Linked DNA regions of Homo sapiens. The protein of the gene in region 1 interacts with the protein of each later gene in a pairwise test. Each region holds a gene or a part of one and is shown in the gene's direction. Other genes may lie near its edges. The genes, in order: BNIP2, GSC2, GPX8, RASGRP4, LDLRAD1, CYB5R3 and OTX2.

Region 1 (3,500 bases):
CCCTGGGTGACAGAGTAAGACCCTGTCTCAGAAAAATAAATATCCCAGATCTTTTCACGTGCAAGTTTGTGAACAACAGAATGAAGGTTAAAGTAAAAGTATTTGTTACTAGATACAGGACTAGATGAGTCCTTATTCTTTGATATTATGGAACGATAGTTTTCCAATTCAAGAGAAAAATTGTCATTTTAAAACTGGGAAATATATCTCAGATTATTTGTTCCAACTTTGTTTCGTTTTGTTTTGAGATGGAGTTTCACTCTGTCACCCAGGCTGGAGTGCAGTGGTACAACTACGGCTCCCTGCAGCCTTGACCTCACGGGCTCAAGCCATCCTCCTACCTCAGCCTCCCTAGTGGCTGGGACTGCAGGCACATGTCACCACATCCTGCTGACTTCTTAATTTTTGGTAGAGACAGAGTCTCACTATGTTGCCAGGGTTGGTCTCAAACTCCTGGGCTCAAGTAAGCCACCATGCCTTACCTGTCCCAACTGTTTTATGTTAACATTTGCAGGCACATTAAGTGTAAAGAAGTGATTTTTGTCTCAAAATCATGTGGCTAAATTACATTTACCCCTAGAAGGCCAATATAATTGAGCCAAATCAGTTCTTTTTCCACAAGGTCATTCTATTTCTCAGGTTAGTGCAGTTTTTAAAAACCGTATTGTGGAAAGTTTCAGACATACACAGGGGTAAAGAGAAGTATATCAAATCTTCATGTATCAGTCACTTCAACAATTACCAATTTATACTTTGTTCCCACTTCTAACCCCCAGTTTACAAGTTTGAAGCAAATCCCAGGAGCAAATCATTTCACCTAGAAACATTTCAAAATATATCTCTAAAAAATAAGATAATCGTAATACTAGCTAATGCGGTTTGAGCATTTTCATTGTTGCTCTCATTGTAGGAGAGAGGAAGGAATTGTATAATGGTACAATTTAGAGAACCTAGTTCAGTTATGCACAGTGATTTTTAAGGCTTAAACTTAATTTGTTTTTTACAGATATGTTATTGGCACTTTGGAGCTATTAGTAGCAGAAAACTACATGATAGTTTATTTAAATGGTGCAACAACTCGAAGAAAAATGCCCAGTCTGGGATGGCTCAGGAAATGTTATCAGCAAATTGATAGAAGGTAATACAAATACAAGTTGAAAGCTAGTCTGAAAAAATTTTATAATGGCTTTAGGAAATCAAACTTTGTTTTTCGTTGCTATTTTTTTTTTTTAACTTTTTTTTTTTTTGAGACGGAGTTTCACTCTTGTTGCCCAGGCTGGAGTGCAATGGCACAATCTCGGTTCACCGCAACCTCCACCTCCCAGGTTCAAGCGATTCTCCTGCCTCAGCCTCCCAAGTAGCTGGGATTACAGGCATGCGCCACCACGCCCAGCTAATGTTGTATTTTTTGTAGAGACGGGGTTTCTCCATGTTGGTCAGGCTGGTCTCGAACTCCTGACCTTAGGTGATCCACCCGCCTCGGCCTCCTGAAGTGCTGGGATTACAGGCGTGAGCCACCGCGCCCAGCCTTCTGTTGCTATTTTAAAACACCATTTATTTTTTAAATTTTATTTATTTATTTCATGGCAGGTTTCTGTTTTCTAAAGATAGCATTTTAGAATATTGTGAGGGAAATCAATTTTGATTTTTCTATAAAGAATAACCTTAATTCTTCAAACTTACAAAGTAGCTTTATATTTCTCCTTATTTAATTGAAGACTTTCTCCTTATTTATAAGATGCAATTTTCTCCACATTGAACACTTTTTTTCCTATTATTTACGTCTTGGCAAAGGATGGAGAATGTAGTATGTTTCCTATTTCATTACATTGAGTTTTGCCTAATTTATAGTGCTTAGCATGTTTTATGTTTTTGTTTTTGTTTTGTTTTGAGACAGGGTCTCACTCTGTCATCTAGGCTGGAGTGCAGTGGTGCAATCTCTGCTCACTGTAGCGGCAACCTCCCAAGCTCAGGTTATTCTGCCACCTCAGCCTCCCAGGTAGCTGGGACTACAGGCATGTGCCACCACACCCAGCTAATTTTTGTATTTTTTGTAGAGACAGCGTTTTGACATGTTGCCCAGGCTGGTTCTTGAACTCCTGGACTAAAGCGATCCACCTGCCTCAGCCTCCCAAAGTGCTAGGATTACAGGCATGAGCCACAGCGCTCAGTATTTATGTTTTTTAATGGTGCTTATTTAGTTGTAATCTTTCTTTGGAACAAGCTTTAGAAGTGTTTTGTCTTGGGAGTTAGTCATCAGTACTTAATGGAAGGAATGTGATCTTCCGATTGGTTTGATCTTGCTGTGGCTAATTTAAATCAAGTCAGACCCATTAATAGGTTTCTCTTCACATCTAAATTTGACATTGGCTAGCTCTTATGATTATATATGTATCTCACTTTATGTGTGAAATATGCATAATACAAAGAGTATTTAGTCATTTAAAAAGGAGAAGTCTAGGATAAAACCTTTAATTTTTAATCAAAACTTTAAATTCCTTAAGAATAGGAGTTAGATCTGATTTGTTTTTGTTCCTGTGGTCATCTTCTCCACTCACACTTCTCTGCCTGCACAGTGCTTTTCATGGTTTTGAAGAACTTAGCACCAATTTCTCCCTAGTCTTGGAAAATGAGAATAGTTTACTTTTACATTCAGTATTGGCCTCTTTCCCTGTTTACAGAGTCCTGAAGACAAGTGAATGTGTATGCTAGGAGACATTTAGTAACAGGCTATACTGTGGACGTAAATCTGGCCAAATGAAGTAAAGTTCATTTCATAGCAGTAGGAGGGACCATAAGAATTTAAGAGTGCATTTTCTTGTCTACAGGGGTATCACACCTAATTGAGAACTTTTGGGTGAGATTTTTCAACTATTATTTTGTATAAACTTGCAGCATTAGAATTTATAGAAATTTTTAATTTTCTTTGTGTGTGTGTGTTTTTTTTTTAAACTCCAGGTTACGGAAAAATCTAAAATCCCTAATCATTGTACATCCTTCTTGGTTTATCAGAACACTTCTGGCTGTTACAAGACCATTTATTAGGTAATTTTTGAGAGCCATTGACTTTAATTTTATTTTTTTTATTTATTTATTTTTAGTTAACACATAATAACTATACATACTTATGGGATACAGAGCTATATTTTGATATGTGTATACATTGTATAATGATCAAACCTGGGTGATTAGTACATCCATCACCTCAGACATTTATCATCTTTTTGTGTTTTGAACATTCAAAATGACATGATTTTTGTATCTTGTAAACATTGTATCCATTGTATTTGTCAGAAATATGGAAGTAATTATTTTTATTTTCTTCCATAGCTCGAAATTCAGCCAAAAAATTAGATACGTGTTTAATTTGGCAGAACTAGCAGAACTTGTCCCCATGGAATACGTTGGCATACCAGAATGCATAAAACAGTATGTTTTGTTTTATTTCCTTAATTGTATTGGATCTTAACATTTTGATGTGCAATGGATAATACTTTTCA
Region 2 (4,217 bases), on another chromosome or scaffold:
TGAAAAGTGTGGGGCTGTGGCAGCCATTCTACCACCAAGAGGTGGGTGGAGGAGGGGTTGACAGAGCCACTCATGGAGGTGGCAGCTCATCACTGAGCCTCCAGACTACCCCTGGGAAACCTATGTGGGAGCTCTTGTGACAGAAATTAAATCAGCAGGTTCGGTCACAGTGATGTCCACAGCACTTTCACTGATAGCAGAGTGGGGATGGCAGAGTCTTGCAGAGGGGCTGGCGGCGGGAGGAGCGCAGGAATACGCATTGCCCTGGGGAGGCGGCCAGGTTCTAACCGTCTCACACCTAGTCACTACACTTTACAGATTGGGAAAGCCAAGCCCAGAGGCTGAAGACGCCTATGGAGGTCACACGGCCAGAAATTGACAACGGAGTATGAGCCAGGCCGTCTGTTTCTCTGTGCTATGAGTCCCATACTGTATTTTCAAAGGTCAAGAGGAAAGGGTCTTAAGCTGAAGTGACGGTCCCGCTGCCAGGAGCCGCTTCACTGAGGGTGAAACAATGTAGCCAAGTGCGGGTCACCTGCGCTGTGGCAGAAGGGACCGAGGACGGTGTGGCCAGAGGACTGGCCTGGGCGGAGAGCGAGGAGGGGGAGCCCACAGCTTCTGGGGGGCAGTGACAGTGCGGGGAAGGGCGAGGTGCAGTGTTGGATGTTTTCGCGGGGATTCTGGGACCAGTGGGAAAGCTGGAGGACAGGCGGCTCTGAAGCACCGAGGAGGGGCCTCGGAAGGGGCGGGGAGGTCTCCTTGACACAGGTGAGGAGACGGAGAACTGGGGGCACCCGGCAGCCCAGGCTTCCTGCCGCGCTCTCACGCCCTCCAGGGCCATGAGACCCTGGCTCCGAGGTGGCGGGCAGGTTCGGGACCCGAGCGCGGCGGGATCGTGCGGTTGCCGGTGGTGCTGGGCCCCATGGAGGCTGCGGTCCAGGAGTTTCGGGTGGGCGGCTAGGCCGAGCTTCTGCAGGCGTGCTGAGCCGCCGCAGTAGGGCCCCAGAGGGGACGAGGAATTAGGCCCAGCCGAACGAGGGGGAGCCACCAGAGGCTGGGCCGGGAGGCACCGCCGCGCTCTGGGGAGCTGCCAGGGTCGGGGCGCCCTCCGAGCGGCTGCCAGGCCCCGCGGGCGGCGGCGAGGCGGCCCTCCGCCCCTTCCCCGCAGGTCGCCCTGCCAGCTTGAGCGGCGGGCGCGGGTGGGGCAGGAGGACGCGGGGCGGGGTGGGGGGCACAGGGGGCCCTCTCTGCAGCGCCCCCGGCCCCCGCGCGCGGAGGCAGGGCCGCCGCAGTCGAGGATTAGCGCGTTCGCGGCCGGCGCTGCGGGATTAACCCGCGTGGACTGGACGCCCGGCCCGGGGATTACTGCGCGCTCCCTCCCCGACGTATATATTCCCGCGGCGGCGGCGCCCCGGCCGGGCCGGGCATGGCGGCAGCGGCTGGGGGCGCGGCGAGCCGCCGGGGTGCCGGGCGGCCCTGCCCCTTCTCCATCGAGCACATCCTCTCCAGCCTGCCCGAGCGGAGCCTCCCGGCCCGGGCCGCCTGCCCACCGCAGCCCGCCGGTCGCCAGAGCCCCGCGAAGCCAGAGGAGCCCGGGGCGCCCGAGGCTGCGCCCTGCGCCTGCTGCTGCTGCTGCGGCCCCCGCGCGGCGCCCTGCGGGCCCCCAGAGGCGGCCGCCGGGCTGGGTGAGTGGGCGCGGAGCGGGGCGCGGGGCCCGGCGGAGCCCGGGGCGCGGCGCAGTGGGTGCCGAGCTTGGCCCCAGCCCCGCGCCTCACCGCGCCCTCGCTCCGCAGGCGCTCGTCTGGCGTGGCCGCTGAGGCTGGGACCGGCGGTGCCCTTGTCTCTGGGTGCGCCAGCCGGAGGTTCCGGGGCGCTCCCGGGCGCGGTCGGCCCGGGTTCGCAGCGGCGCACGAGGCGCCACCGCACCATCTTCAGCGAAGAGCAGCTGCAGGCGCTCGAGGCGCTTTTCGTGCAGAACCAGTATCCTGACGTGAGTACGCGCGAGCGCCTGGCCGGCCGCATCCGCCTTCGCGAGGAGCGCGTGGAGGTGAGTGCCCCGCCCAGCCTTTCCCCGGAGCGCGCGGGCCGCGGCTACACTGGACTGGGGTCCTGGCGGGCGGGCGCCCTTTGCAAAGACGGCCTCGGCCCAAGCCCCGCCCTGGCGCGCCGGAGGGAGGAGGTCCCTGGACGGCGCTGGGCGTCCGGGGGTATGAGGAGCGGGTGAGAGCAGGGAGGTGCCGCGGGAAAGGAACCGGAGGGCTACTTTTCTTTTCTTTTGTTTTACACTTTCCTCTGGTGACGAAAGAGGCCCGCGTTCACGTCCAGAATTTGGGAAATTCAGAAGAGCCCGCAACCCAAGAAGGGGCGTCCTGGTCGCCGCCAGCTGGAGGCTGGGGCGGGTACTAAGGGGGTTCCCATCTCGCGTCCAGACCCACCGAGTCTGTCCGCAGCGAATAAGGGCAGGTGGCGCGCAGCCGCGGCCCGGGTGTCGGCTCTACAGCGCCGTCCGCCCACATCCCTGTTGCGAAGCTCCCCTCTCGGTCCCTGTGGGACCCTCGGGAGCCGGTGGGACGCAGGACCTGGGGCTAGGGCTGAGCATTCCCCCCATCCCCAGGTCTGGTTCAAGAACCGCCGGGCCAAATGGCGACACCAGAAGCGCGCGTCGGCTTCCGCGAGGCTCCTGCCCGGCGTCAAGAAGTCCCCGAAGGGGAGCTGCTGATGACTCTAGGAGCTGCCCCTGGGCTCGGCCACCCTTTTTGGGATCTTTGGAGTTGGCGCTGAGAGAAGACAGGTCTACCCGAAAAGGAGCTGGGAGAGTACACCGGCCGCCTCCACCCGTCTCCACAGCCCTTGCCTCCTGCAGCTCGTGCTGCCGTGGCGCTGGGGACGGGCCCCCGGTGCTTGGTGTTCCACGGCAGTGGGAGTGGCGAGTCCCTTGGGGGTGGGCTGGGGCATAGAGCAGTTTCCTCAGCTCCCTACCCCCCGAGAGACACTAACTCCACCGCAGGAGGGGAACCACCCCGTATCAACACGGGACCCAGAATCCTACGCAGTGGAGCGTCTCTCCGCACCCTGGGACATGCTGGCCACCCTCTTCTCAATGTGGACATTGACCTAACTTGACCTGGCTCGTCCTCCCCCAGCGGGAGAGGGGATGGGGTTCGTGTCTGTGCAGTCCTGGCGTTGCAGGCTTCCCAGGCCCTGGGCTGGGTCTTGGTATCTGGACCTGTAGAATAAGAAGGTCGCAGGAGCGATTCCAGGAGCCCCTCCACAGTCCCTTCACCTTCGAGCCTCGCGCTGATACTGAGAAACTAGCAACTTCAAATACCACAGAAGCCGCCCAGAGTCTCAAGTCCACCTTGGCTCCACTCCCACACCCAACAAGGAGCTGTCCCTTCTTCTTCCTTCCCAGCGAGGGGGTATTTAGGGTACAGCTGTCTTTGAGAGGAGCACAGCTCAGCGATCCTCAGTCTCTGCACCAGGGTGCTCCCCAGCAGAGGGGACTGCTCCACGGATGGTGGCCTTGGACCCCTGGGGTCCAGCCCTGGCCTCTAGGCTACTGTGAACCTGCCCATGGGTGAGGGTCCCCTGCTTCCTCCTGGGGTTTTCATGCTGTGGGCTCGGACTCCCTCACAGCAATCTGTGCCATCCTAGGGTAGGGCAAGAGGAGGTTGGACTGGGGAGACCCCGCCCCTGCTGCCTGGGAAGATGCCTGCCCTCCCCTTCTTTATCCTGGCCCATGGCAAAAGGCACAGTGGAAAGAAGCCTTAGATTCCCCAAGTAGGCCCTACAGTGGGTCCAAAGCATCTCACATCCCCACCCCCAGCTGGCTTGAGCACCTCGTTCTGTCTCCTTACAGGCCCTGCAGGGAATGGGGCCATTCTACCTGCAAGAGATGAAGTCCATCTCTAAAAGCAGGACTGCAGAAGCCAGGGCTGCAGCTCCCCAGACACCCCAAGGCTGGCCAGCTTGGATAACACCAAGCAAGCATGGTGTCCCCAGTCAGAACTGCCCTGACACTGCTGGGTGTCCCTAGCATCCCCGCCTCCACCCCTAGCATGCACACAAAGCCCTTCTCCCTGAACCCTGGTCTTGCCCTTGGGGACTGAACAGACTACCTGTGGACATGCCCGTGTCCCAGTCAGCTCCCTTGCAGCTGGGGACACTCGCATCTCACAGGCTCCAGGCCCCTTGAGTTCCTTGGTTGAATGGCCATC
Region 3 (2,313 bases), on another chromosome or scaffold:
GAGTGGTATAAATAGAAAAAAAATCTACATTTCTTACATAAATTAAGATTTATCAAAAGGATATCATGGCTGGGCATGGTAGCTCATGCATGTAATCCCAGCACTTTGGGAGGCCAAGACAGGAGGATCACTTTAGTGCCCAGGAGTTCAAGCCCATCCCGGGCAACACAGCGAGACCCTGCCAAAAAAAAAGTTATTGCTTTTCAAAATAAGGTGATTATTCACTTTGGGAGGCCAAAACCCTATCTCTACTCAAAATACAAAAATTTGCCTGGTGTGGTGGCACACACCTGTAATCCCAGCAATTTGGGATTACAACTTTGCTTCATTTTTTTTGGCTTTTAATTTTATTTGACACAGAGTTTCACTCTTGTCCCCCAGGCTGGAGGGCAGTGGTGTGGTCTCAGCTCACTGCAACCTCCACCTCCCAGGTTCAAATGATTCTACTGTCTCAGCCTCCCGAGTAGCTGGGATTACAGGTGCACACCACCACACCCGGCTAATTTTTTGTATTTTTAGTAGAGATGGGGTTTCACCGTGTTGGGCAGGCTGGTCTTAAACTCCTGATCTTAGGTGATCCACCCGCCTCAGCCTCCCAAAGTGCTGGGATTACAGACTGAGCCACGGCTCCCAGCCTACTTTGCTTCATTTCTTGATACTAAGATCACATACTAGATGAGTAGACTCATAGGTGAAGTCATCAAGTATATTGAAATCTGGTTACTCTAACCTTGAGTTTCACTTCGTTTGGGTGTTTTGTTTTTTATATTATGACAGTCCTAGAACTTGATACTAAAGTTATCATTTATGCAGATACTAATAGAAGTGAAAATCTTGACAAAGAATAAAATTATGCTCATGAAAATATGTTCTGGATATTTTAGATTCTTCAAAGAAGGAACCAAGGTGGAATTTTTGGAAGTATCTTGTCAACCCTGAGGGTCAAGTTGTGAAGTTCTGGAAGCCAGAGGAGCCCATTGAAGTCATCAGGCCTGACATAGCAGCTCTGGTTAGACAAGTGATCATAAAAAAGAAAGAGGATCTATGAGAATGCCATTGCGTTTCTAATAGAACAGAGAAATGTCTCCATGAGGGTTTGGTCTCATTTTAAACATTTTTTTTTTGGAGACAGTGTCTCACTCTGTCACCCAGGCTGGAGTGCAGTAGTGCGTTCTCAGCTCATTGCAACCTCTGCCTTTTTAAACATGCTATTAAATGTGGCAATGAAGGATTTTTTTTTAATGTTATCTTGCTATTAAGTGGTAATGAATGTTCCCAGGATGAGGATGTTACCCAAAGCAAAAATCAAGAGTAGCCAAAGAATCAACATGAAATATATTAACTACTTCCTCTGACCATACTAAAGAATTCAGAATACACAGTGACCAATGTGCCTCAATATCTTATTGTTCAACTTGACATTTTCTAGGACTGTACTTGATGAAAATGCCAACACACTAGACCACTCTTTGGATTCAAGAGCACTGTGTATGACTGAAATTTCTGGAATAACTGTAAATGGTTATGTTAATGGAATAAAACACAAATGTTGAAAAATGTAAAATATATATACATAGATTCAAATCCTTATATATGTATGCTTGTTTTGTGTACAGGATTTTGTTTTTTCTTTTTAAGTACAGGTTCCTAGTGTTTTACTATAACTGTCACTATGTATGTAACTGACATATATAAATAGTCATTTATAAATGACCGTATTATAACATTTGAAAAAGTCTTCATCATTTTCAGTATTTCTCTCTGCATTATTTTTTAGAAGCAACTCAAATTCTGTAATCATAATATTACCAAGTAAGTCAGTCTTTATTTTTGCGTGAAAATCCCAAGTGTAGAAAAAAGGACATGAGTATAAGATCATTTAACTTGATTCCTTATAGGCTGATTTGGGTTGCTAATGTATTCGTACTAGATTAGCCACTTGGGAGGAATTCAATGCTGCATCATTCTGATAGCTGAAATAGTAAAAGTCAACTCCAAACAGCCTAAATTCTAGTATAAAAAGGGGGTGATCATACAAGTCCTAAAGTGTAGATCAGCAGTCACTGAACCTCTTAGAGTCACAAGGCATTTCTTCTCCCAAAGTCATGACCTTTATATTTTGTTAGCCTTATAATTGACTAACAAAGCAACCTGCCAAGTTGGTGAAGGTTAATTATTGCCTCATGAAATATACATTCATCGCATAAAAGAATTAAATAGGAAGATGGCCAAAAATGTAAAAAAGTCGTATAAATTTGTCTAAGAAGAAAAAGACCCAATTTAAGTAGTCTGTGACTTGACTCCCAAATTCTG
Region 4 (3,500 bases), on another chromosome or scaffold:
TGTGGGAGGAAGGAGGGGAGGGTGTTAGAGACCAAACGGGAGCCCTGAGGAGGCAATTCCTGAAGGCAGGTCCTCCCATGCCTCTGCCTGGGGAGGACAGAAGAGATTCCAGGGGTCTTCTCCCGAGTCCCTGGTAGGCCAGGAGTAATCCTGGGATCTGCCAAAAGGAAGTCTCTTCCAGGATGCCCTGGAAGCAGTCAAGAGGAAGTTGGGGGCAATGCCTGGGGAAGGAGTTCTTATGATTCCCTGAGGGGTCTTGAGTGGTCCCAGGGGTCTTCTACTGTGATTCCCTGGGAGATTCAGAGCAGTCCTGAGCGGCGGTCCCCAGGCTTTTTGGCATCAGGGACCAGTTTTGTGGAAGGGGGTGGGGATGGTGTGGGGATGATTCAAGTTAATTACATGTATCCTGTGCTTTATTTTTATTATTATTACATTGTAATATATAATGAAATAGTTACGCAGCTCACCATAATGGAGAATCAGTGGGAGCCCTGAGCTTGTTTTCCTGCAACTGGATGCTCCCATCTGGGGGTGATGAGAGACAGTGACAGATCATCAGGCATTAGGCATCAGGCATCATAAACAGCACGCAGCCTAGATCATCAGGCATCATAAACAGCACGCAGCCTAGATCCCTCGCATGTGAAGTTCACAATAGGGTTCATGCTCCTAAGAGAGTCTAATGCCCCAGCTGATCTGACAGGAGGTGGAGCTCAGGCGGGGGTGCTTGCTTGCCCGCTGGTTCCTAACAGGCCACGGACTGGTACCTGTCTGTGTCCCAGGGGCTGGGGACCCCTGGTCTTGAGGATCTTCCTCTCTGATTCCCTGAAGGGAGCAGGAATATCCCTGGGAGTTTGCTTGTGGGAGAGGGCTCCCATGATTCCCCCAGGGATCTGGAATATTCCTGGGGATTCTCTCTAGAGTCCCTGGTAGGTCAGGGGTAACCCTGGGGCTTTGCCTTTAGGAAGCCTCTCCCGTGGTGCCTTGGGGCATTAGAGTCAAAAGGAATTCTAGGGTCTGTCCGAAAGAAGGTGCTCCCATGACTCCTTGGGGGCTGTGCCCACAGGAAGTCCCACCAGGAATGCACCGGAAAAATAGGAGGGCGAGGCCGGCCCCGCCAAGTGCGCCGCCACAAGACATGCCCCAGCCCTCGGGAAATCAGCAAGGTCATGGCTTCCATGAACCTGGGCCTGCTGAGTGAGGGCGGCTGCAGCGAAGATGAGCTGCTGGAGAAATGCATCCAGTCCTTCGGTAAGTGTCCTCTCCCCAGCAGCCTCCCTGGCCCTAACCTCGGGCTCAGCACTCGCTTCTCTCCACCTCAGTTTTTGGAGGTAAAATGAGAACAGGGCTGGGTGGAATGAAACTCAATCACTACATTAGAGATAACAGAAACACCTGCATTTCTTCTTTCCTGAAATGGAAATATATACATTTATATATATATATAATATATGTGTATATTATATATATTTATATAAATCTTTTTTCTTTTCTTTTCTTTTTCTTTTGAGACAGAGTCTCGCTCTGTTACCCAGGCTGGAGTGCAGTGGCCTGATCTCAGCTCACTGCAACCCCCACCTCCTGGGTTCAAGAGATTCTCCTGCCTCAGCTTCCCGAGTAGCTAGGATTACAGGCACATGCCACCAGGCCCAGCTAATTTTTGTGTTTTTAGTAGAAACGGTGTTTCACCATGTTGGCCAGACTTGTCCCGAACTCCTGGCCTCATATGATCCGCCCGATTCAGCCTCCCAAAGTGCTGGGATTACAGGTGTGAGCCACTGTGCCCGGCCAGTCTGGTGCTATTTCAATCTTCAGCAAGACTTGCCAGGGGTGATGCTGCCCCATGCACAATACAGATAAGGAAACTGAGGCACAGGAGGTTAGGTTGCCTGTCCAAGGTCATGCTGGGGATCACCGTTAGAGCTGGTCTTTGAACCAGGTGGTCCGGCAGGATCTGGAGCTACGCTCTGCATTGCTTGAGGGCCATTCTGTCACAGAGTACCCCTCCTTCCACCCCAGATTCAGCTGGCAGCCTGTGCCACGAGGACCACATGCTCAACATGGTGCTGGCCATGCACAGCTGGGTGCTGCCGTCCGCCGACCTGGCTGCCCGCCTGCTGACCTCATATCCTCCAGGACTGTGAGCTATGGGTGGAGGGCAGAGGGCAGAGTCGTGAGAACCTGGGCAATGGGAATGGGGAGCAGGCAGGTCATGGATCCTGGAAAACAGAGCCTTGACCAGAACTCAAATACCAGAAGGCCACAGGGGACACCCAGGAGCTGAGACGGCTGCAGATCTGTCACCTGGTCAGGTAGGGCTGGGCCGAGATCCCCACTCTCAGGACCCACGACTTCCATCCTGCTTCCCCCTCAAAAAACATTCCTCAGAGAATCCCCAGGCCAGTTCCCACAGACCCAACCAGCCCCACAGGCCAAAATCCCACTTCTGAGACACCTGTAGCTTGGTTCCTAAGACCCTCTTAGTTCCGTTCCTTAGAACCCCCACTTCCTAGAGACCCCCCTCACCAACCAGATCCCATAGACCCTCCTAGCTGGTGCCCAGAGACCTCCAACTCTGATCCCCAAAATCTCTACCTCCCACAGACCCCAGCCTAGCCCATAAGACCCCCTCATTCTGTCCCTCCAAAAATTTCACCCCCGGAAGCCCCCAGTCTAGTTCCTAGGACGCTCCACGATCTTGCTTCCCAATAATCCCACTTCCAAGTGACTCCCCGGTCTGTTTCCCACAGATCCCCCCAGTCTCTGTTAAGAGACCCCCATCCTACTCCAGAGATTCTCCAAGCCTGGTGCCCCTCCAAACCCCAACCCTCCAGGGACCCCCACACACATTTAGAGACCCCCTAGCTCAGCACCTAGAAATTCCTCAGCCCAAAATACCCCTTGTAGAGACCTTCGCCACCCCCGGCCTCATCTCACCATCTCCAAACCACTCTCAGGTACTGGCTGATGCGACACCCTGAGGTGATGCACCAGGATCCCCAGCTAGAAGAAGTCATAGGTCGTTTCTGGGCCACCGTGGCCCGGGAGGGCAACTCAGCCCAGAGAAGACTGGGAGACTCTTCTGACCTGTGAGTCAGCCCTGTGCTCCCCTCTTCCCTGCCCCATCGCCATTCTGCCATCTCCCTCTATATCCCCAAGCCCTCAACTGTGAGCCACTCCAATACCCTGCCCCTCTTGGCCCCCAGCCTGAGCCCTGGTGGCCCTGGCCCCCCACTCCCAATGAGCAGCCCAGGCCTGGGCAAAAAGCGCAAAGTGTCCTTGCTTTTCGACCACTTGGAGACGGGGGAGCTGGCTCAGCACCTCACCTACCTGGAGTTCCGGTCCTTCCAGGCTATCACGGTGAGGACCCCCTCCCATCCCCGTCCCAAGCAGGGGAGACACTGGGGTAGGGGAGGGATTGGCTGGGGGAAGGTAGGACTGAGAGGACACCTGCATGGTCATTCGGCAGAGATCTCAAAGTCTTAAACTCAAACCTGTAT
Region 5 (3,500 bases), on another chromosome or scaffold:
GGTGCAGTGAACTAGATTGCACCATTGCACTGCAGCCTGGGCAACAGAGCCAGACCCTATCTCTAAAATATAAAAAATAATAATTAAAAAAAGCAATAATAATAGCTCATACTCAACACTTACTCTGTGCACATTAACTCAACAAATTCTAATCCTCTCAACAAAGTCTAAGGTAGCTATTATGGTACCCATTTTCCACATGAGGAAACTGAGGCACAGGGAAGTGAAGTGGCTTACTCAGTGTGGCCCAGGTAGGATGCGGTAGAGCTGGGATTCCAACCTGCATCCCAGCAGACTCCAGAATGGACAGTCAATTGGGATCGTGGAAAGGGCACGGGTTTTGGCATCAAACAGGTGTGGATTCACACGCCAGCTCCACCCAGGGTGACATGAATCTTTTCTTCCTGAGCCCTAGTTTCCTCATTGATAAAATAAAAGGTTGTTTTGAAAAATAAAGCACGCTTATGAAGGGCCTAATGGAGCTTCTGCCCCAAGGTGGGGGCTGGACATGCAGGCGTCCATCTCTCCCTGCGTCCTGAGGAAGTCTCCTGATGGCGGGTGGGAGGGGAGGGCTGTCCGCCTCTGCCATTCAGCCAGCTGTGGGCCCCTGGCCAGGGTGGCACCTAGTGGGGTGGGCCCACAGGCAGAACAAAGAGCATCAAGGAGGGCTTGGGAGCTGCTCCTCCAGGGAAGCCATCCCTGCTCTGCTCACCCTCGTGGGGGAGAGGCTGCTTGCAGCGGGCAGGGCGGAGAGGGAGCTCCCTGTTCCTAGCGCTGGCCCCCTATCACCACCACCCCCGGGCTTGTTTCCCCCCCACACAGCAGGCGGCGGCCACCTCTGCTGCTCACGTCGCGGGGCCTGCCTCTCTGCCTCTCTGCTGCTCCTCCTGGCAACTGTGGCGGCCCTCATCGCCTTGGTCACCATTCTTGGACTCCCATCATGCACCCCAGGTCAGGGCGGCCAAGAGAGGGTGGGTCAGACCCGGCGGGGAGGGCATGGGAGGGCACAGAGAGATGAGGGAGCCCCGACCTGCCTGGCTTCTCCACCAGGTGACTTTGGACTAATTCCTTAAGGTGCATGCACAGACACACACAGACACCTGCACACACACTGACTATACCTGTTTCTGAGCCTCCATTTGCACATCTGTGACATGATTATTGAGAGGACCCAGCTCTGATGTCACCTCCTCCAGGATGCCTTCCTAGACCCCCAGGATGGGTTACGAGCCTCTTCTCAGCCCCCCAGTCCCTACACTTCCTCTTCCCCTGGCCTGGCCACCCCGGGGTGGTGCTATCCAACTGTGTGCCCATCTCCACCACAGGGGACCGGGTGACATCCCATACATGCCTGCAGCCCCAGCTTCAGGGGTGAACAACCCCAACACAGTGCCTGCCTTCAAGGAGCTAATAACTGTTCCGAGAGCCGTCTAGACGTGAATACACATTACAGCGGGGTCCCTGGGAGCCCTGAGAGTCTAGCCCCATTGAGGAGTCAGGGTAGGAACAATGGGTATTAGTAGTGGGGGGATGCCAGGAAAAGCATCCCAGGCACAGGGAACAGCATGTGTGGAGCCCTGAGGGGTGGGAGGAAGCAGGAAGAGAAGAAGAGACTGCAAGAGGCCAGTGCACAGGAAGGGCTGGAGTGACAAGTGGGGCCCAGTGCCAAGGGCCTCACAGGCTGCACCGAGAAGGGAGGTCATAGTCCAGGAGCCACAGAAAGGGGATTAAGTTGGGGGCAAGTTGGGGGCAGGCTGATGTTTCTGAAGGATGGCTCTGCAGCCAGGCAGGGTGGGTATAGAGGGCTGAGGTGGGGGCGGGGGCTGAGATTCGCAGCGCTCCCCCTGCCCTGCAGGAACACAGACCCTGAGGTGGATGAATACATGAGCAGCTGCAGTCAAGAGCCTGTGTGCACATCTGTGTGTTTAGCGTGTCTATGAGTGTACGCAGCTGTGTATGCATGTTCATGTCTGTGTGTCAGTGCGTGTGTGCACATCTGTTGTCTGTGTATCTGTGAGTGTGCACATAGGTGCAGCAGTGTGTGTGTGAGCATGTGTTCATGTGTGTGTGCATCTGTGTGTGTCTGTGTCAACATGAGTGTCTCTGAGAGTTGCTCCCCCCCGCCGCCTCCCCCACACACACTAGCTGAGGCAGCCCAGGGACTGAGAGGTGGTTCACGCATGCACAAACACAAATGCACAAACTGGCTCCCATCCCCAATTATGCACACGTATACACATGTGGGGCCAAGGGGTTCCTCCTACCTTGTCCGTAGGTTTCTGCCTTTTAATTCTTTGGGGCAGCCCTAGGAGTGGGTATTCCTTTTCTCCTCCCATATGGGGGGCTAATGATGACGTGTCGCAGGGGTGTTTGGGGAACTATAGAATAAAGATATGAAAGTGCTTTGCAGTTGTGCCCAGATAGAAGGAATTATGACATATGGCCCTCCAGCCAGCCCAAATATATTGCTTCTGACACTCTAACCTGGTACCAGGAGCTCCACCATTAAAACCACTTCACTGAATTGAACATTGTCCTCAGAAGCTTCCCATGACACTGTAAATAAGTTTTCAATACAAGAGAGAACCATTACTAGTTCTGCACATTTTCTGTTCTATGTTTCTTCACAGAGATGCTTTCATTTAATCCCCACAACAGTCCCACGGGGTGTGTGCTATGATTCCCATGTTGCAAACAACCTGAGACTCAGGGTGGTCAGGTCATCTGCCCAAGATCAGGCAGCCGGCAGCGGGTACAGCTGGGGCTTGAACCCCATTGATGGCGCTGGGTCCATCCTCCCCACTGCCCCAGCCCCTCAGGCCAGCTCTAGGCGGAGTTCAGGTGAGGAAGGTTTGTCCTTGTGAGCACCACCCTTGACCCTCCAGGGCCTTTCCCTGCCCATTCAGGAGCCCAAGCTTGTATAACACTGACAAACAGGACAGGCTTCTTGTGCCATGACCAGAGGAGCTGCATTCCAGCCAGTGGGGTCTGTGATGGCGTTCGCACCTGTACCCACGGCGAGGACGAGGATGAGAGCTTGTGCCGTGAGTACCCGCTCGGTGCTGCCCCTCCCAGGGGTTCCCCCACACTCCGATGCTCTTGGCATCCATACTGAACACATCAGGCACCTTCAAGTCCCCATGGCTTTGATGCTCCAGTGCCTTCATCCAGGAACACCTGCCCCGACCTGGTCCCAGTCAGGGACACACATACATGCCCCCACTAAGGAATGCCTTCACCCTGTGCGTCTCCACTCCCAGAGAACCCGTATTCATCCCTCAAGGCAGAGTTCAAATGTTACCTCCTCCAGGAAGCCTTCCCTGACTCCCACACTAGGTTAAAGTGTCTCCTTTGGGCTTCCACAGTCCCTGTGATTCCCTGTGTCCCAGCCCTTGTCACACTGGTTGTCGCTCTTGATTGGCACATCTGCCACCCCCATCAGACTGTGAACTCCTCTGAGGCAGGCCCAGTCCGCTTGATATCGGGGCCCCAGTGCCTAG
Region 6 (3,500 bases), on another chromosome or scaffold:
GCACTGTGTACACGCTGTCCCTCCCCCAGCCACCTTCCCCTTCTCCATCCATCAGACTCCTTGGGCAGGGTGAGCCGCTCCTCCTCTGTCTCCCCATTTCTTTGTAGGTGTCGGATTGAGGCCCTTCTCTTTCCCAAGACAGTAATCCTAGAGAGTGCAGGGCAGGAAGTAGTCCCAAGAGTGAGGGAGGTTTTTAGCGACAGCACAAAACGGAAGGGACTGAGTGTCCACCAGGAGGAGTGTGGCTTAGTGGGCCTCCCAGAGCCTTGACTTTGCTGACGGGTTCAGTGTCTCCCGTTGGGAGGGGGCCCCAGAGACAGTTGGTGAAATGTGAGTGCATCCAGCCCTGGAGTTGGTCGGCCTTGTACACGAGGCTGGTGGTTTGCTTTCCCCGGATATGTCAGGTGGAGGCTGACTCCTGGGAGGACGGGGTGAAGGACGGGGTGCAGGACAGGTAGGATTTGACGGCTGGGTGGATGGGGCTCCACGGGAGAAGGCCATGTGTGGGCCTCAGAAGAAGCTGCAGAAGAGGCACTTGTCTCCCACTGTGGGCAAGAGCTCGCCCCTGAGACCTGGAGCTGGGGACTGAGGGCTGCGGGGGTGTCTTGCAGGTTTACTTCAAGGACACCCATCCCAAGTTTCCCGCTGGAGGGAAGATGTCTCAGTACCTGGAGAGCATGCAGATTGGAGACACCATTGAGTTCCGGGGCCCCAGTGGGCTGCTGGTCTACCAGGGCAAAGGTGATTCGGGTCGGAATCCCTTGGTTACACGGCAGGCTCAGAGAATTGGAGAGCTTGGGCGTGCTGGGTGCAGGGTGCAGGCCCCTGGCTCTGTGTGGATGGGTGACTCTCGTCAGGCCAGCTGTCCCTCTCTGGGAACTGAGTCTCCCTGGCTGTAGAGGGGGTAAGTTGCTGGCACAGGGGTTGCAGACAGGCCACTCCTGGGGGCCACGTCTCACCCACTGCCAGCCTCTATTTGGCTTTCTCAGCATCTGAAACAAGCAAGCAAGAGGACAGAGCTGAGCCTCCGGGTTCCCAGCCTCTCCACTGCTCCTGCACCTTCCTCATGGCTCGCGTTAGAATGGCAGCTGCCTCTACCTCGGACCTCACAGTGGGGGCAGGTTCTCCAGCCCCCTCTCCAGCCTCTCCAGCCACCACACATGGCATGTTTGATGGCCGGGCCTCACCCCTTCTCTCTCCCCAGGGAAGTTCGCCATCCGACCTGACAAAAAGTCCAACCCTATCATCAGGACAGTGAAGTCTGTGGGCATGATCGCGGGAGGGACAGGTACACGGAACCCCCCACTGAGGCGTCCGGCGGCTCATGTTAAGGGTGGGGTTGGGGTGTGGGTGAGGCGCAGGTTCTGAGTGCCTGGGAGCTACCAGAGGTCAGGGGCCCAGGCCCAGTGGTCCTGGCCCCTCCACCCCAGTACACCTGGGCGGGGCGGTGCCTGTGAACAGGCCTCGCTCAGCACGTGCGAGGCCCGGCCGGCTATTTTGCAGGCATCACCCCGATGCTGCAGGTGATCCGCGCCATCATGAAGGACCCTGATGACCACACTGTGTGCCACCTGCTCTTTGCCAACCAGGTCAGTGGGCATCCCCATGATGGGGAAACTCAGCTTACCCTGAGAGGGGACTTCGGGCCTGGTCAGGTGCTGTTCCAGGGGTCTGCACAGCTCTGCTGAGATTCTGGGGATGACCGGGATGGGGGGCCCTGAATGTTCTGTGCACTGGCGGCCTTGGCAGCAGCACGGCGGGCAGGCTTTGTGGTGCAGCGCCTGTGTCTGGCTGAGGGGGCTGCCTTGCGGGGAGCTCCCTGAGCACCCCCTCCCCTGGCTGCTTCCTCCAAAACTCAGAACTCCCTTCACCATGAGCACGGTGTGGAACCCACTGGTAGAGTGGGAAGAATGCTGGCCTGGACATGGAGGGGCCCATCTTACAAATGACCAGACATTTGCACGAAGCCCCTGAGCTACAGGGTGTCAGGGCAGGATTTGAATGTTGGTGTCTCTGGCTCCTGATTCATATCCTTGTCCACGAGCCCACTGCCTGCCTGCCCGCCCTGGCCTGCTGTGTGGTCTTGGACGAGCTACTTTCCCTCTCTGAGCTTCACTCCCTCATCTGTAGAATGAGCTGATGAAACTGGGTTGTTGCAAGGTCTTTTCAGGTTAGTGTTTTGTGACTGATGACGTAGATTTGGGGGAGAAGATGCTTGCCTGAGGTCCTTGGATGTGGGTCCTTGCCCCACCCTGCCTCCCCGCAGCTGCAGAAAACTGCCGCAAGGCCAACCAAGATGGCCTTGCCAGGCCCAGGGGAGAAAGAGCCAGAAATTCTAAGCTGGCTGGTGTGGAGGGAGAGAGGGCAGCAGTGAGACTTGGTGGTGCTGGTTCAGAGTCTGTGGAGGCCGTCAGACCGTCTGTCACCTGTACAGGCCATCTTTGCAGCTGGTAGCGAGGGCAGTGTGGTCGCCTCATCTCATACCTCCGAACACAGGCTCCGGGAGGGGCTTGACTGTGCATGTCTCGTGGGAAGTGCTGAAACCAGGATGCAAACCAGGGTTTTATTTATTTATTTATTTTGATACAAAGTCTCGCTCTTGTCCCTCAGGCTGGAGTGCAATGGCACAATCCTGGCTCACTGCAACCTCCGCCTCCCGGGTTCAAGTGATTCTCCTGCCTCAGCCTCCCGAGTAGCTGGGATTACAGGATGTGTGCCACCATGCCCGGCTAATTTTTATATTTTTAGTAGAGATGGGGTTTTACCATGTTGGCCAGGCTGGTCTCGAACTCCTGACCTCAGGTGATCCACCCGCCTCAGCCTCCCAAAGTGTTGGGATTACAGGCGTGAGCCACAGTACCCAGCCTATTTTTATTTTTAAAAAACTATTTTAGAAAACATCATTCTGTTTTACGTTTTTGCAAACCTTGGAATGTCTGGCTTCATAGGACAGCTAGATTCCTGTGTTTGTTTCTACATCCCATCTGTGTGATGTTGCCAGTCACGCAGCCTCTGGAAAGTGGCCCCATCTACTGAGAGAGGAAGAGTGAAAAATACCAGTGTCTCAGTATTATATGAAAACCATTTGGCCTCAGGGATCCTCTCCAGGGTCCCAACCCCAGGGGTCCCCATGCTACACTCCGAGAACCGTGCCAGTCGGGTCATTGCTGCTCGTTTCCTCTCCTACCTTCCTCCGTGACCTCAGTGCCTGGTTTTGAGCTGGGAGCCCCCTACCCTCGAGTAGCAGCCCCCCAAGGTTCCATCCCTCTGTTCATCTGTCAGGTGGGTCGCGGCGGTGGCCACCTCAAAGGATGGTGGTGAGGATTAAAGCATGAGACACACTTTAGCTCAGAGAGGAAGACATAACTTTTTTTAAAAAAATTGAGACGGAATTTCACTCTTATTGCCCAGGCTGGAGTGCAATGGCGTGAATCTCGGCTCACTGCAACCTCCGCCTCCCGGGTTCAAGCGATTGTCCTGCCTCAGCTACCTGAGTAGCT
Region 7 (3,500 bases), on another chromosome or scaffold:
GGTTGCTGGTGGAGAGAGACCCATCCTTGAGCAGGTTTCAAGAGTAGTCACGTGGTGTTGTAACCCTTCCCTTCCTCTGTATAGAAATCCTCTCCTATTCTCATGGACTTGTACGTGTGAAAGCAGCTTAGCTCTTGGACAGTCCAAGTATTTTTACAGATGAAAAAATAGAGTAAATGACTTGCTCAAGGTCATAACTAAGTTTGGTGGCAGAGTCAGGGTATAGACGCAGCTGGTGCTTTTACCAAATAAATCAACACAAAAAGAATGTATTTTCCTTGACTTCTTAGGGATTGAAGAGAATTTTCTAGTTCTGAGCCATTTAACAGATAAAATATCTACATAATGTCTCTAGTGACACCCCTCTTGTTTTAGTTCCCCTAAACTTGACCTTAAACTGGAGAGGGAAGGTCAACTCCAGCTTGCCTTGTGAGTGAGCCCTGTACAGAATTCTCTGCAAAGTGTTTAGCACATAAACCACATACACACCTGGGCCTCTCCTTCGGCTAGAATATGTTTATGAAAGCGACAGACATCAGTGTCAGCTGCAAATTGGGAAAGGGGCTTTTTCAAAGTAGGTTAGAGGAAGTTTTAGCACTTGCAAGGCTTGAACCAAAGTCCTCACTAGGAGAAAACAAATGGCTCCAAATGGTTGGTGGTCTTGAGCTTGGCCTTGGTGGCCTCACTTTTACCACAGTTACGGCACCCATACAGAGAGCTCATTCAAAAGTTCAGCTAAGGATTTGTCCTCCAGAAAATGCCAGTAGTTCCTCTTCTAAGCCCCCTCGTACACCAATCATAGCTCCTTCATTGCAGAACATGAACAGGGCTGGTAAAGAGAATTGTCAAGATTGCAGCAGGGGGTTGAAGTGGTAAGTCAGTAAACACAGCACAGGAGACTGAGTCTATGTGCTGAGTGGCACTACTCTAACAACACAGACTCGAGTCCCAGAGACTAGCAGGTCTGTGCTCCAGCTCAAAGCAGAGTGCATGTAAGTCACTCCTTTTACCACAAAGAAGCTTTTAGCAAATAGTGGCTTTCAGACCTCTTTCTTCAACAAGATCATGTCTTCCCCTTGGAGCTTTGTTCTGTGAGTCTTTCTAAGAGAGACAGAAGGGTGATGGAACCAACCAACCTCTATATTAGCAGTTGCTTCCTGGAAGATGAACTGTAAATGAATTTAGGCTGTTCCTGTTAGCCTGTAACAACAGAATTGCTTTCTCTCACTTCTCATGTATTTCCCTCCAAAAGACAGAGATACATTCTATTCCTCTGTGAGAGTGTTCCAAAATATAGCTGGGTCTATGTGTATGTGTGTGTTAGAGGCGAAATAAGATAGGAAAGTGATGTGGAGAGTTTTTAGCTATATGATTTGGGGGATTATCTTAAATGTTATTCTGGGCAAGAAATAAGACAGTGTCAAGTGTTTTTAGACAGAGCCTCCCCAACTTTCTTACAAGTCCAGGAGTTTATATGAGAGTACCACATAATAGGTCTTCAGTGGCAGGGGAAATTGTGTGTTTAGCTGATCTGCCCATGTAGGATAGATTTATAATACGGGAGCCATTCTTGTCCTTAAGGAACTATCAAAACCGAGTTAAAGAATTTTCTTTCCCTTCCAAGGTATGGTTTAAGAATCGAAGAGCTAAGTGCCGCCAACAACAGCAACAACAGCAGAATGGAGGTCAAAACAAAGTGAGACCTGCCAAAAAGAAGACATCTCCAGCTCGGGAAGTGAGTTCAGAGAGTGGAACAAGTGGCCAATTCACTCCCCCCTCTAGCACCTCAGTCCCGACCATTGCCAGCAGCAGTGCTCCTGTGTCTATCTGGAGCCCAGCTTCCATCTCCCCACTGTCAGATCCCTTGTCCACCTCCTCTTCCTGCATGCAGAGGTCCTATCCCATGACCTATACTCAGGCTTCAGGTTATAGTCAAGGATATGCTGGCTCAACTTCCTACTTTGGGGGCATGGACTGTGGATCATATTTGACCCCTATGCATCACCAGCTTCCCGGACCAGGGGCCACACTCAGTCCCATGGGTACCAATGCAGTCACCAGCCATCTCAATCAGTCCCCAGCTTCTCTTTCCACCCAGGGATATGGAGCTTCAAGCTTGGGTTTTAACTCAACCACTGATTGCTTGGATTATAAGGACCAAACTGCCTCCTGGAAGCTTAACTTCAATGCTGACTGCTTGGATTATAAAGATCAGACATCCTCGTGGAAATTCCAGGTTTTGTGAAGACCTGTAGAACCTCTTTTTGTGGGTGATTTTTAAATATACTGGGCTGGACATTCCAGTTTTAGCCAGGCATTGGTTAAAAGAGTTAGATGGGATGATGCTCAGACTCATCTGATCAAAGTTCCGAGAGGCATAGAAGGAAAAACGAAGGGCCTTAGAGGGGCCTACAAACCAGCAACATGAAATGGACAAACCAATCTGCTTAAGATCCTGTCATAGTTTTAGATCATTGGTTATCCTGATTTGCAAAGTGATCAAAAGCATTCTAGCCATGTGCAACCAAACACCACCAAAAATAAAATCAAACAAAACTAAGTTGTGAAGGAAGGGAGGGAAGGTCATAGCCTTCTTAAGCAGAGGTGTTCCATTGTTTTAGCCAATCCTTGGTTGAATCTTAGGAATGAACAGTGTCTCAAGCTCATTCACGTTTCATGACCAACTGGTAGTTGGCACTGAAAAAACTTTTCAGGGCTGTGTGAATTGTGTGACTGATTGTCCTAGATGCACTACTTTATTTAAAAAATAATGTTCATAAGGAGTCAATATGTAGTTTAAGAGACAATCAGTGTGTGTCTTATAAATGGTACATCTGTGGTTTTTAATCTGTGCTAGACTTCAAAACTGTGATCTCCTGTTATTGTATGCAACCTTGAACTCCACCTCTGCAGGGGTTCTTCTGTGATTAAATAGGTTATAATTATAAGCAAAATTCAGAGCAACTGAGTACTGATCTAAAAAGATTACCTTTGGCTGGAGGTGAGCTGCACTGAAACTTTACGACAAAATGTCTCTGGACAAAGAGAGTCAGAGAAGAGAAGCAAAAGGACACTAATTCATCTGTAATTTACTGTTGGTAAGCCTAGCAGTAAAGAGACATTGGTCAATTGCTCTGACCCTGATGAATTATTAAACTGAGATCATTGTCGTTTATGCTTGCAGATGTTAAATGGAAAAGTTATATATGCATAAACCTTTTCTTCCTGGATTTGGCAGATATGTATAATTATATTAAAATGGTTCTAGCACAACATTGGGTCCAGTTTAATTTTACACCGCTATTTATGAATAAGAAGCCTACATTCAGCCTTTCCTCCCCAAAACACGTTTTTCTTAGGACAGAGAGTAAATTAGCAAACTTATTTTTACTTTTTTTTTTTGCTAATCTATGCATAAAATAGATATGAATGACAGTGGTAGGTAGACTTTTTGTGACTTTCATCAGGATTGCTCTGAAATTGAGTTTGGAGAGCCTAAC

The links.
Region 2: the proteins of BNIP2 (region 1) and GSC2 interact in binary tests that used the Homo sapiens proteins (3 or more experiments, as listed by UniProt).
Region 3: the proteins of BNIP2 (region 1) and GPX8 interact in binary tests that used the Homo sapiens proteins (3 or more experiments, as listed by UniProt).
Region 4: the proteins of BNIP2 (region 1) and RASGRP4 interact in binary tests that used the Homo sapiens proteins (3 or more experiments, as listed by UniProt).
Region 5: the proteins of BNIP2 (region 1) and LDLRAD1 interact in binary tests that used the Homo sapiens proteins (3 or more experiments, as listed by UniProt).
Region 6: the proteins of BNIP2 (region 1) and CYB5R3 interact in binary tests that used the Homo sapiens proteins (3 or more experiments, as listed by UniProt).
Region 7: the proteins of BNIP2 (region 1) and OTX2 interact in binary tests that used the Homo sapiens proteins (3 or more experiments, as listed by UniProt).

Annotation. Positions count from the first base shown.
Region 1 is NC_000015.10:59,668,821-59,672,320, reverse strand, and holds part of BNIP2 (BCL2/adenovirus E1B 19 kDa protein-interacting protein 2), read left to right. Parts: intron 1-1,006; coding exon 1,007-1,138; intron 1,139-2,958; coding exon 2,959-3,045; intron 3,046-3,330; coding exon 3,331-3,429; intron 3,430-3,500.
Region 2 is NC_000022.11:19,147,493-19,151,709, reverse strand, and holds the start of GSC2 (homeobox protein goosecoid-2), read left to right. Parts: upstream 1-1,417; 5' UTR 1,418-1,426; coding exon 1,427-1,685; intron 1,686-1,793; coding exon 1,794-2,047; intron 2,048-2,614; coding exon 2,615-2,719; 3' UTR 2,720-4,217. UniProt on the Homo sapiens protein: May have a role in development. May regulate its own transcription. May bind the bicoid consensus sequence TAATCC.
Region 3 is NC_000005.10:55,163,171-55,165,483, forward strand, and holds part of GPX8 (probable glutathione peroxidase 8), read left to right. Parts: intron 1-884; coding exon 885-1,048; 3' UTR 1,049-2,313.
Region 4 is NC_000019.10:38,419,720-38,423,219, reverse strand, and holds part of RASGRP4 (RAS guanyl-releasing protein 4), read left to right. Parts: intron 1-1,066; coding exon 1,067-1,251; intron 1,252-2,019; coding exon 2,020-2,125; intron 2,126-2,249; coding exon 2,250-2,312; intron 2,313-2,957; coding exon 2,958-3,089; intron 3,090-3,206; coding exon 3,207-3,360; intron 3,361-3,500.
Region 5 is NC_000001.11:54,011,687-54,015,186, reverse strand, and holds part of LDLRAD1 (low-density lipoprotein receptor class A domain-containing protein 1), read left to right. Parts: intron 1-822; coding exon 823-951; intron 952-2,906; coding exon 2,907-3,044; intron 3,045-3,500.
Region 6 is NC_000022.11:42,625,393-42,628,892, reverse strand, and holds part of CYB5R3 (NADH-cytochrome b5 reductase 3), read left to right. Parts: intron 1-611; coding exon 612-741; intron 742-1,204; coding exon 1,205-1,288; intron 1,289-1,503; coding exon 1,504-1,589; intron 1,590-3,500. UniProt on the Homo sapiens protein: Catalyzes the reduction of two molecules of cytochrome b5 using NADH as the electron donor.
Region 7 is NC_000014.9:56,800,480-56,803,979, reverse strand, and holds part of OTX2 (homeobox protein OTX2), read left to right. Parts: intron 1-1,624; coding exon 1,625-2,245; 3' UTR 2,246-3,500. UniProt on the Homo sapiens protein: Transcription factor probably involved in the development of the brain and the sense organs. Can bind to the bicoid/BCD target sequence (BTS): 5'-TCTAATCCC-3'.